3 linked regions of the Homo sapiens genome follow. The protein of the gene in region 2 interacts with the protein of the main gene of each other region in a pairwise test. Each region holds a gene or a part of one and is shown on either strand. Other genes may lie near its edges. The genes, in order: PSMF1, QKI and ALG13.

What was found.
Region 1: the proteins of QKI (region 2) and PSMF1 interact in a two-hybrid assay, tested with the Homo sapiens proteins (one large-scale study listed by BioGRID and IntAct).
Region 3: the proteins of QKI (region 2) and ALG13 interact in a two-hybrid assay, tested with the Homo sapiens proteins (one large-scale study listed by BioGRID).

What each region holds. Positions count from the first base shown.
Region 1 is NC_000020.11:1,121,560-1,125,214, forward strand, and holds part of PSMF1 (proteasome inhibitor PI31 subunit), read left to right. Parts: intron 1-3,655. UniProt on the Homo sapiens protein: Plays an important role in control of proteasome function. Inhibits the hydrolysis of protein and peptide substrates by the 20S proteasome. Also inhibits the activation of the proteasome by the proteasome regulatory proteins PA700 and PA28.
Region 2 is NC_000006.12:163,529,583-163,533,237, reverse strand, and holds part of QKI (KH domain-containing RNA-binding protein QKI), read right to left. Parts: intron 1-3,655. UniProt on the Homo sapiens protein: RNA reader protein, which recognizes and binds specific RNAs, thereby regulating RNA metabolic processes, such as pre-mRNA splicing, circular RNA (circRNA) formation, mRNA export, mRNA stability and/or translation.
Region 3 is NC_000023.11:111,729,553-111,733,207, reverse strand, and holds part of ALG13 (UDP-N-acetylglucosamine transferase subunit ALG13), read right to left. Parts: intron 2,814-3,655; coding exon 2,781-2,813; intron 2,684-2,780; coding exon 2,628-2,683; intron 1-2,627. UniProt on the Homo sapiens protein: Catalytic subunit of the UDP-N-acetylglucosamine transferase complex that operates in the biosynthetic pathway of dolichol-linked oligosaccharides, the glycan precursors employed in protein asparagine (N)-glycosylation.

The sequences.
Region 1 (3,655 bases), on a different chromosome or scaffold from region 2:
GACTCAATTGTGTTTTCCAAGCTCAGAGGATATTTGTGTTGCCTCTCCAGCCATCTGCTGTTTCCACCCTTCTGGGGGTGATAAGAAGGAGAGGAAGGTCCCAAGAGTGTATGCTTGACTATACAAGTTGACAGTTAAATGGAAAGCTAGATTGTCTGCTTTCTCTTAGGTTTTGCTTCCTCTGTTACAGGGGAATTGTGTACATAAAACTTGATTAGAAAACCAGTGCAGCCACTGGCTTCAACAAAAATCCAATACTTGAATTTGGATTTCTTTCTTGAAGTCAGAACCACTCCTCACAAGAACTTTACAGCTTTGTCAAGTGGTTTGGGTGCCAAGGGGATAGGTAAGGGATGACTTAGGTGGTTATCGACATAAGTTAGAGAATTTTGTTTTCTGTTGTGGGAAATCTAAGGATTATGATGAAAGAGAGAAAATGCCCAAAATGATCTGTTTAAGTTTCTTTGGGTGAATTTTAGTTCAGAGGCATTGGGGCAAATTCATGGCCATTAAAGAATGCTTCCAGTGCCAGGATTTTGCCTAAGAAGACAATTATCTTTATTCTCTTAGGGCCAGTCTTGTGGACCTGGCTGGGAAAAACCTTCTCTAGCCATAGCCTGGGCAATCAGGAGCTCTGAATTCCAAGCACAGCCCTACACCTGACTTGCTGAGACCTTGGGCAGCTCTCTGACCATCTCAGGCCTTAGAGTTTTCTTTTCTTTTTCTTTTTCTTTTCTTTTTTTTTTTTTTTTTTTTAATCCGAGATGTCTCACTCTGTCACTCAGGCTAGAGTGCAGTGGTGCTATCTTGGCTCACTGTAACCTCTGCCTCCTGGGTTCAGGCAATTCTGCCCCAGCATCCTCAGTAGCTGGGATTACAGGTCCCCGCCACCATGCCTGGCTAATTTTTTTTGTATTTTTAGTAGAGACAGGGTTTCACCATGTTTGCCAGGCTGGTCTCGAACTCCTGAATGCAAGTGATCTGCCTGCCTCTGCCTCCCAAAGGGCTGGGATTACAGGCAAGAGCCACCGCGCTCAGCCTCAGGCCTTTGATTTTTCATCAGAGGAAGTTAAACCACGTGACTGTGTACTTAGGCTACTTTCCAACTGTGGCTTTCTGGGACTCTTGATATTTGATGTCAGGGTTTACAGGGCAGTTGCAGACCATGTTTGGCCTGATATCGCCAGGGTCTGTCCTCTGTTTACTGGGGAACATCAATTGCACTGCAGTTAGAGATATCAGTTTCACCTGACTTCAGGGATTTTCTGTAACTCTGGAAGCCAAAGGTGATGGGGTGGTGAGCAGACCAAATTGTTTATATTCCAAGAGAGAACTCTGGTGGATTGAATGCTGTACATGGAGGATATAATATAAATTTAAAGGCGTTTGCCAGAGCAAAGATGAGGATGTCATCAAATTCCTGGCTTCCAAAGTAAACAAATCCACGACACTAAACACTAAACATATTCGGGAAATTTACCCAGTTTGGGGTGAGGGGATAGTTTCTTTTTCGCAGAAGAATGGTTTGATTAGTTTTACTTTTGTTTTTCCTCACTCTCATTTCTATGCTTCAGGCCTATGAATTTCATTGTCATCCAGCCAGGTTTTAAACCATGACAGTTGCGACATCCTGAATTTTATTTGGGATCTCTTTCCCCAGAGGATTTCTGAGCACCAGGGGTGACGAAACAGGAGAGGCCAGCAATTCTCAATGTGTGGTCTCCCCTTGTCCTTGGTGTGTGAAGTTTTGCTTTGCTGGACCTTTGTCTTTTCCATTTTCTTCATCTCCGGTCCCACTCCCTCCCGCTGTATTCTCATGACTACAGATCTTCCCAGTCCACCTGCCCCATGGTGAGCAATATAAATATACATCCATGAAAAAAGATTATAGCATTTTTTTGTGCTTTTTAAAATTTTTACATAAGTGGTACTGGAGTGTAAACCTCATTTTTTGGGGAACTTTTCTTTAAATCATATTTTTTCTTTTATATATAATACTATCATTAGATCTGGTTTATTCCTTCTGACTGCTATATAGTATTCCACTATAAGCATATTTTGCATTTTATCTCCACTTTTGCTACCTTAGCCAAGGCTATAATGAAGATCCTTTGTTATGTACCCTGTGCACAGGGTTTCTTCTGGGAGTAGGGATTTTGGATCATAGGATATTGGCTCATCTAATTGCACTAAAAACTGTCAGATTGCTCCCCGAAGGGGCTGTGCAAGTTTAAATGCCCACCAGCAGGGACTGGAGGTTCCCATTCTCCCCACACCTACACAGACATCTGGCAAAAAATAGAAAACTGGGTAATAACAGTCCGAATCATGTAACTTAGTGTCTCATTATTTCAGTTCTGCTTCTCTGATTGCTAGTAAAATTGAATAACTCTTTAGACACTATTAGCCGCTCTTTTTCTTGTTCATATCTTTTGCCACTTTTTGGAGTTCCCAATTGTTATTGTTCATTTTCCAGGCATTCCCTTTATGTAGAGGTTATTAATTTCTTTCCTTTGCAGCCATGGCAAATGTCTCTTCCTAGCCTGTGGCTCCTTATTAATTTAGTAGTGTCTCTGTAGAACAGAAGCTTTCAATTATGAACAGTGTCAAAGGCAGCATTTTCTTTTATGGATCTTGTTTAAGAAATCTTCCCCACCTAGAAATCACTATATTATTTTTCCTGTAGAAATAATTTGAGAACTATTTCTCAAACTTTAGTATGGAAAGTCTTAGGATTTTTAAAAAAGAAAAGAGGAAGACATCACAACTCACAATAAAAGATGTATTTTACACCCACCAGGCTGACAAGCATGAAAATGGCAAGCATTTTACCCCTACTAGATTGGCAAGCAATAATAGCAATGTTGCCAACTACACGGAGCAACAGGAGCTTTCATACATTGCTAGTGGGAGTATAAATCAGTAACTCTTTAGAAAACAACTTGACTTTATCTTATAAATTAAAAGCTTTTCCTCCATGCATACTGTATAGAAATTTATCCACGTGTACCAGATGTGTACAAGAATGTTCATAGCAGCATTGTTTATAATAGCAAAACAAATAAGCTGGAAATACTCCAAATCACCATCAACAAGTAGATGTATAAATTGCAGCATAGTCATACAGAATGCTGTGTAGCTGTGAATGTGAATCAGCTGTAGTTAAATGCATTGACATGGATACATTTCCAAAAACTATCAAATAAAAAAGGCAAATGACGGAAGTGATGCTGTGTATTTAAAATTCAAAAACATTTGAAGCTATATTTTTATGGTTGCATGTATAGTAATATAACTCTAAGGAAAAGTAAAGAAATTGTTTAAGAGTGGTGATTACCCTTGAAGGGGAAGGAGGGACATTTATTGGAGTATGCTACCCAAGGCTTTAGCAGTATTGCTGATGTTCTATTTCTTAAGCTGGTGGTAGAGACATTTTATAATTCTTTGTTATTTGTACATGTGCTACATTTTGTGTATTATGAAATTATAATTTTTGTACATCACTGCAGTCAGTTAGCGTGTATTCGGATCTGTGTTTTTAGTCAACACCTTGGTAATCCTATTGAAGTTAGCCTAACGTCCAAACTTTGAAAAACACTACTTAGAACTTCGCAGTGTTCCTCAAGATGACTGGCTTTATTCTTAGCAGTGGGAT
Region 2 (3,655 bases):
AAAAATTAGTTTTGTTATCCAGATTTCAATTGTTATGTTCAAGAATGCTAACAGTATTTTCTCACCAAAATTTGTATTTTTTATTTATCTTTTTTTTTTTGGAGAGAGACCTACAAAAGCTACTAGTCTGGTATTATTTGGTGGGCCTAAAAGTGCACCTATTTGACTAAACGCATATATATGAGGGACTTCTGTTTCCAGGCAAGATATAGTAACAGGAACCAGATTCACCTTCCTGCTGAAACAACCAAAAAACTGGCAAAACGTATCAACAAGTTTCAAGCCACTGGACATCAGACAACTAAGGACAAATGACACAGAGTTGGGAACAACTGAGGTGAGCCTATAACTGCCCCCACTCACTGGCTTGAGAGTCTCCAGACAACTCCATGAGGAGACTAAGCAAGAGTCCAGGGAAACCGAGGCAGCCAAAGCTCAGAGAGTCCTGGGAGAGCTGCCACTCAAATATTCAGCTGAACCCTGATCGTTGCATACTTGAGAGAAAATTCCAGAGGCCAGGGAAGGAACCACCCAAAAGGATTCCAGGTCAAAGTGCCTGGCTCTAGAAAAGAACAAGACTGAAAGACTTGAAGGATTCCCCACGGGTAAGGGACACAGAAAGGTCTTGCCTCAGTGGTAGGAAAAAACTAAACCTAATCTAAGCATTGTTCCAGTACAACTAAATACATTTTAAAAGTAAGACCAAATGCCTTAAATTATTTCCAACTAACTTAACTGTGTCCCAGGACAAAGCTCAAAGATATTTATAGGAATATAAAAATATCCACCCAACAAGGTAAAAGTCTGGCATACAATTAGAAATTAACGGGCATGCAAAGCAGCAAGAAAAATGCAATACATGAGACCACCTCCCCCCCAATCAATTCACTCAAACCAATCTAGAAGTGATACAGATGTTATTATAAATAGACAAAGACATTAAAAGCTCTATGTGTGTGTGTCAAACACTAATGCATATAGATACTAATACAATGAAAACTGAGGAACATTTATAATCAAATATTTTTGAGAAAAGCTTAAGAATAAAAACTAAAATTTGACTTGCCGCAGAAACCTCTATACATGGAGAAAAGCCAGAGAATTTAAAAGGAATAATTATTTTCATGATAGAAACAAAGTTGCAGTATTATTTGCCATTTTGCTTTATTGCAAGAATACATTTTTAAGGTGTAAAACACTTGGCCAATGCGTACTCTTACTAATTCAACAACTTAAATGATAGTTAAAAATATAAAAATAGGAGAAAGCTACATCTACCCTGTTTGCTTCAAAATCAACATTTTTGCTTACACTTTTAAAAACAATTGAAGGAGCAAAAATTTTCAAAGATGGAGAAATTAATGGAATGGTGTACTTACACTCCCACCAAAAATTCTTCTACAACACTGCAGAGTTTAAAATGTACAAACTCAGCCGGGCACAGTGGCTCATGCCTGTAATCCCAGCACTTTGGGGGGGCCGAGGCAGGAAGACTGCTTGAGCCCAGGAGTTCAAGGCCAGCCTGGGGAACAGTCAGACCCTGTGTCTATTATAAATAAATAAATAAAATGTCCAAACTCGTAAGAAGTAAGAAAATGGGAAAGGAAACCATTTAAAAATTAAGAATCTAGAAAGCAGATGGTTAACTTAAAATTTACCTGACTCTAGTTAAGAAAGAAACTTATTTCCTTGCAATCCACCCCAAAAATACTGAGGAAATGGGCAGCAGTGAAAACAGGGGTGAGGGTGGGGCTGAGATTGCAGGACTAGATGAACTCTCATTAAAAAGCAGTTCAATTCCCATATCCCCTGTCCACAAATGGCTAGCTATCAAGCACTCCCTAATTCCCAGCAGTAGACCAGAAACTGATTCTGAAAGGAAGTAAAACACTTGCTCAAACTGCATTAGGAGAACAGTTGACAGGGTAACTTCCACTCTGACAGCTGGGCTGGCCGGCCATCTCCCCTGCTCCAAATGCAGAGCAAGGGAACCCAGGCCCACATCTTGGGGACAGGAGACTTGAACAACTGACCCTTCAGAGAGTTAATAAAAGACGCTACAATGCTGAAACAAGAATGCTCTATTTAAAAATTTTGAATACAAATAGAAACTCCTGCAACTAAAAACATGAGAGCAAAGATGAAAAATTTGATAGAAGGTTGGAAGACAAACTGAGGAACTCTCCAAGTAGCAAAAGACAGAGATAAAAAAAAATGGTGCAGAACTGTATAATATTAGAGGACTAGTCCAAGAGGTTCAGAAACTGAAATGACGATGTCCAACTACCAATATAAAGAAAAAGAAAGCAGAGGGAGAAAAATCATCAATGTTATATATTTTTCGCAAAACTGAGGGATCTGAGGTTCCAGATGAAAAGGACCCACTGAGTTTTCACCACAAGGAATAAATGAAGCGGACACTTCAAAATCAAACAATGTAGCAATTGAAAGTAAACACTAAAAGCACCTCTTTTAGTGTTTTGGAGGGGGTGCAGTGTGAAGAGAGAGACCGACCAACCCGTTTTCCACATCAGGCCTCAGAAAATCTTTCATCCATGTGCATATCAAATGTCACACAAAAAAAGGCTTTGAGGTCATGCTACGCAGAAGCCATGAAGCCATATTCATTCTACTGTAGTCCATTCCAGCTCAAGAAGAGTTAAATTCCTTCAGTGAGTTTGCAGCTTAGTAATTATTTAATACAAATACTATTTCTCCCTGTGATCTCATTCTGTTTCTTAAGCAGATTATAAAGGCAATCTGGGATTGGCAAATTTTATAGAGAAATCAATAAAACACACCCCAAAAGGTCCTCTTTTAGTCATTAAGGATAGATGCAATTATAGGATGGTTACTTCTGAACTTAAAATATCCATAGTAAGAATCCACTCACAAAACCCATTTTCTCACTTAAATACATCAGGACAAAGAAAAGGTTGAAATAAGCAGACAGGAGGGATGATGATATGGACGCACACCAAAAATGCTGTATTTATTAGAAACTGTGTTCTACGAGGCATTCGTTTCTTTTTACAATTATGTTTCAAACAATCTTTCAGGGGTTAATAGCTGAGATACTGATGTGGAAAAAAATAGCTCATGACTACTATAATGTCTGTTTTACAGTTACCATTTGCAATATCATTTCATAATATATGTGCTACTAAATCTTCAGCAACATAGAAGAACACAGTTTTGCATCAATATAATCCCAAATTTACATTTTCCAGCACAGTACTGCCCCCTGATTTCTAGACCTCCAAATTCAACTGCCAACTAGAAATGTATACTTCAATCTCTAAAGCAGTCTGAACTCCACATGTCCAAACTGGGGTTCATACCTCCCTGCTGCAAATCTGTCCACAATTAATGTCTCAGCTATTACTCATCCTGAATGAATTTTCTGAATCAGCGTGGATTTTTAGAATTTGAGGCTTTGTAGGAAATCTCTGAAACACAGTCATGGCTTACTTGTGCTTTGACAGAGACTGGCTGCTGCACATGCACCCATTCACATCTATCCACACTAATCTGAAGTGCCGTGTTCATTCACTTCCCACGATAGGCTCAGATTTACTCCATGCTGTATTACTGGCCATTCCCCAAACATGGATTTTGACACCCATAAGTTTATGGAAGCTATCTATCGCCTATG
Region 3 (3,655 bases), on a different chromosome or scaffold from region 2:
TCACTAAAGAACTTATTCATTGTAACCAACCACCACCTGTTCTCCAAAAAACCTATTGAAATTAAAAATTAAAGACAAAGAGTTTTTTTTTAATGTATGCTGATAATTCTGAAGACATTTATCCTTTATTTTAGCAACAATAGAAATTTGCTATGGATTTGGTGATGGGGGCAGAGGGCTTGGAACATATGAAGAGATTGAAAGCTATTGAGGTTGTTTAAATTCAGAACAAAAAGGAACATGTGACAAGTGAAATTGAAGGAACAGAAAAAAAGTATTCTTGTCATCCCTTGTGGTAAGATTCTTACTTGGCTACTTCAAGAGGTGATATCAAAAGCACATGATATGAGAATAGTAATGGTGGCAGGAAATGGGGGAAAAAACTTTCTCTGGAAGGAGCAAAGTAAGGGAAGGAGAAAGAACAGAAAGAGAATTACGTATCAGAGTTTTCTTCTCCTTCCTAAGGTATATTGTCTAAACAGTAAAAACAAAAATTTAGTACATGAAGCTGCCACAGTTTAGTCATAATTAGAGAATATAAGGTAGTTATTCAAGTTCTTCATAAATATTCCAGATTTCCTGAATAGATGGTAGGATTGCCCTTCCCAGCTCCATCCAAAGTCAAGAATGACCATGTTACTTGGTCAATAAAATATGACCAGAAATGTCAGTGTTCAATTTCTGTATCTTTTGCCCTGCTGTGATGATCATGATGGCATGTGTCCATCAGCCTGGGTCCCTGGGTGACTATGAAGAACAGTCATAGTCTGGCAGCCTGCTGCCAACTCGCATTGAACTATATAACATTAGCAAGAACAACTTTTCCTGAGTTAAGCCACTGAGATTTTGGGGGGTTGTTAACTGCAGCATAACCTAGCTTGACTAAAACAGAAATTGGTAACTAGAAGTAGGGTACGGCTATAACAAAATCCTAATTGAGAAGGAGATTATGAACATGTAGCTCTTAGGGTAAGCAATTTAGAAGACATGATGTTAGTATTGTGCTTTGATAACTGTTGGCATTGTCTAAAGCAAGTTATTTTAAGACAGGTGTATGTAGGAGAGAATTAGTAGTTTGCAGGCAGGAATGAAAGGGAATAGATTCCTTGCATACAGGGACTCACAGGGTTGAAGGAACAACTGTTTCAACCCTAAACTATAAAAGGTAATATTGATGAATGGTTTGAACAACGACAAACAGTGAAAACTCGACCTCGCAGCAAGAATGAACTCTTTGGTTAAAACCCGAGTGTATTAAGATGTCTCAAAGCTAGAGTTCAACTAAGGATGTAACACCTAGTAAATCCTTGCACTTCAACAAAATGGCTTGTAGAAAAATGTCCAAAATGCATGGCTCTTCCATCAGTGCCTGATAAACTCAAGCCACTTGCAATCAAATAGACAGAAATATAAGGATAAAACCACAAAGAATTATAGCAAATCTTAGTAGTATATCTATAGAAAAGAACTGTAGTATGGCTATTGGTACATGAAACCAAAAGAAATCAAACAGAAGCAGAATAAATTAATCTTACAGCCAAAGAAATCACGAGCCAGAACTAAAACCATTCAACTGAGATAAAACCACCCTTGGGCCTCCAATCTTCTGTAAGTAGCAAGCTTAGAAAGCTGCTCGGTTGCCAAGGAAGGATTATTCTCCAATGCCTACTCCAAACACTGCCAAGGAAGGATGGGCCTTGGGAGTAACCAAGAGCCCCAGAAAATGAACGAGAGTTCCTCCAGGGAAGAGTCCCATGAGTATGTTGGGGGCCCTTACAACGTCTGCCCATGAAGGTCTCAGAATTGCTACAGGCCAATAACTGTTTTTTTCTCCCTTTATGAATAGAAATTTCAGTCCCTGCTTCAGCACTGTAAACTGGGGAGGGAGGGGGAAAAAATAAAACCTCTGTATTTTTGGTTTTAAGTCTCAAGATCACAAGAAGCTACATCTGGACCCAATATAACAAGTACTACACATAGCCCAGAAATCCTAGGCTTTGAGTTTGATTACACTGAATGGGACATTTTAGGATGCCTCCTTTGAGACAGAAACAAGTATTCTGCCTATGAGAGGGAGGGCAAGTTGAATGATATAGTTCTTAGCGCTGTTAACATGTTTCTTTTTGCCTTCCAGCACAGAAAAGTTAAGACTCTTCAGTGGGACCTGCTCTGGCCAGTGAAATGGAAAAGAAAGTGACATGTATCACCTCTAGTGGAAACTCTAAGAGCCAGTGCACCATTTACCGAATTTTATTTCCTGCCTTGGCAATTGTGGATGAATTTCCATCAGCCTAAGTACCTGAGCAAGCCCTTCTACAGACCTCTACTAGACATGTAGCATAAAGGAGAAGCAAACTTTTGTTATATTGAGTGAGATGTATCATCCATTCTAATAAAAAAATCATAATAAAACCTTCTAAAAGATCATTACTGCCTATGTTAGAATATCTCTAAATATATTAGTTCCAGAACACGAGTTAATTTCTGTCTCAATTTCATCTTCAAAATGAGAATGATACTAAGCCTCACAGGGTTGTTCTGATTTAAATACATTTATATGTATAGCTCTTAACAGTGCCCTAGTACATAGTAGGAGCTATAACTCTTTGCTATTATTAAATACCTACCAAGTTTGCTGTAGATGCAGTTGTGCTATAAACACCTGAAGTTTCATAGTCTGGCTCTAGAGAATATAGCCAAAGTAAAAAATGAGCATTATTTTATAGCTTGAAATTCTATAAACAATGATGAATGCCAGATCACTTCTAGATCTTACTGACCTGCACGATAAAGATATTCTTCATGATATCGCCCTGGGGAAAAAAGACAAGACAGAAGAAATGTGTTTATATAGGTCTTTTTAGCTCAGCAGAGCCAAATGGCCAGCACTTGCTTTTTCCACCAGTTTTATGGTTATATGTTCAAAACTAAAATGCATACATCCTGAAAAGTGATATGAGCTTTCACACTAGTCAACAGATATTGAAGCCACAGACTAGCTGTAAGCTGTACAAATTTCTCCTCTGAAAATCCACTTAGCTCTTAGAGGTCAGGCAGAAGTGAAAACTCAGTTGTGTCCAATTTTTCCAGTGAGGCTACAGTGTGGTGATTAAGCACATAGGCTCTGGAGTGAGGACTGCCTAGATTTGAATTCTGATTAACTACATGACTTTAGGCAAGTTATTTAATCTCTGTGCCTCAATTCTTCACTGTAAAATGGAGTAACAGTACCTAGCTCATAGGCCTTTTGAGGATGGTTAATGGAAGTGAAAGTAACTTAGCATAGTGCTTTACACATACTAAATACTCAATGGTGTCTATAAAGTATGAGTATAATCCACTGTTTCCTTAGGTGGACATTAAGGGAACATGTATGCCTCATCTGTTTTTCAATCTGTTTCATGTAAGTAATACATGTAAAATGAGTGTGTCCTCAAAGGATGGCTCAGTAGACTGAAGTACTTTTAAGATTTCTGTACCACTGAAATGCAGAGAAAGTCAATACTCAATCGGACAGTTTTCCACCAAATATAAACCCGCAGTTCTAAACTAAATTTGATTCTTAAACACACCACTTATCAAACACACACGCATGAAACTCCTCCAGATTTAAGGTGGGAGCAAAGATTTGGTTATTTCAAATATGCCACACTAC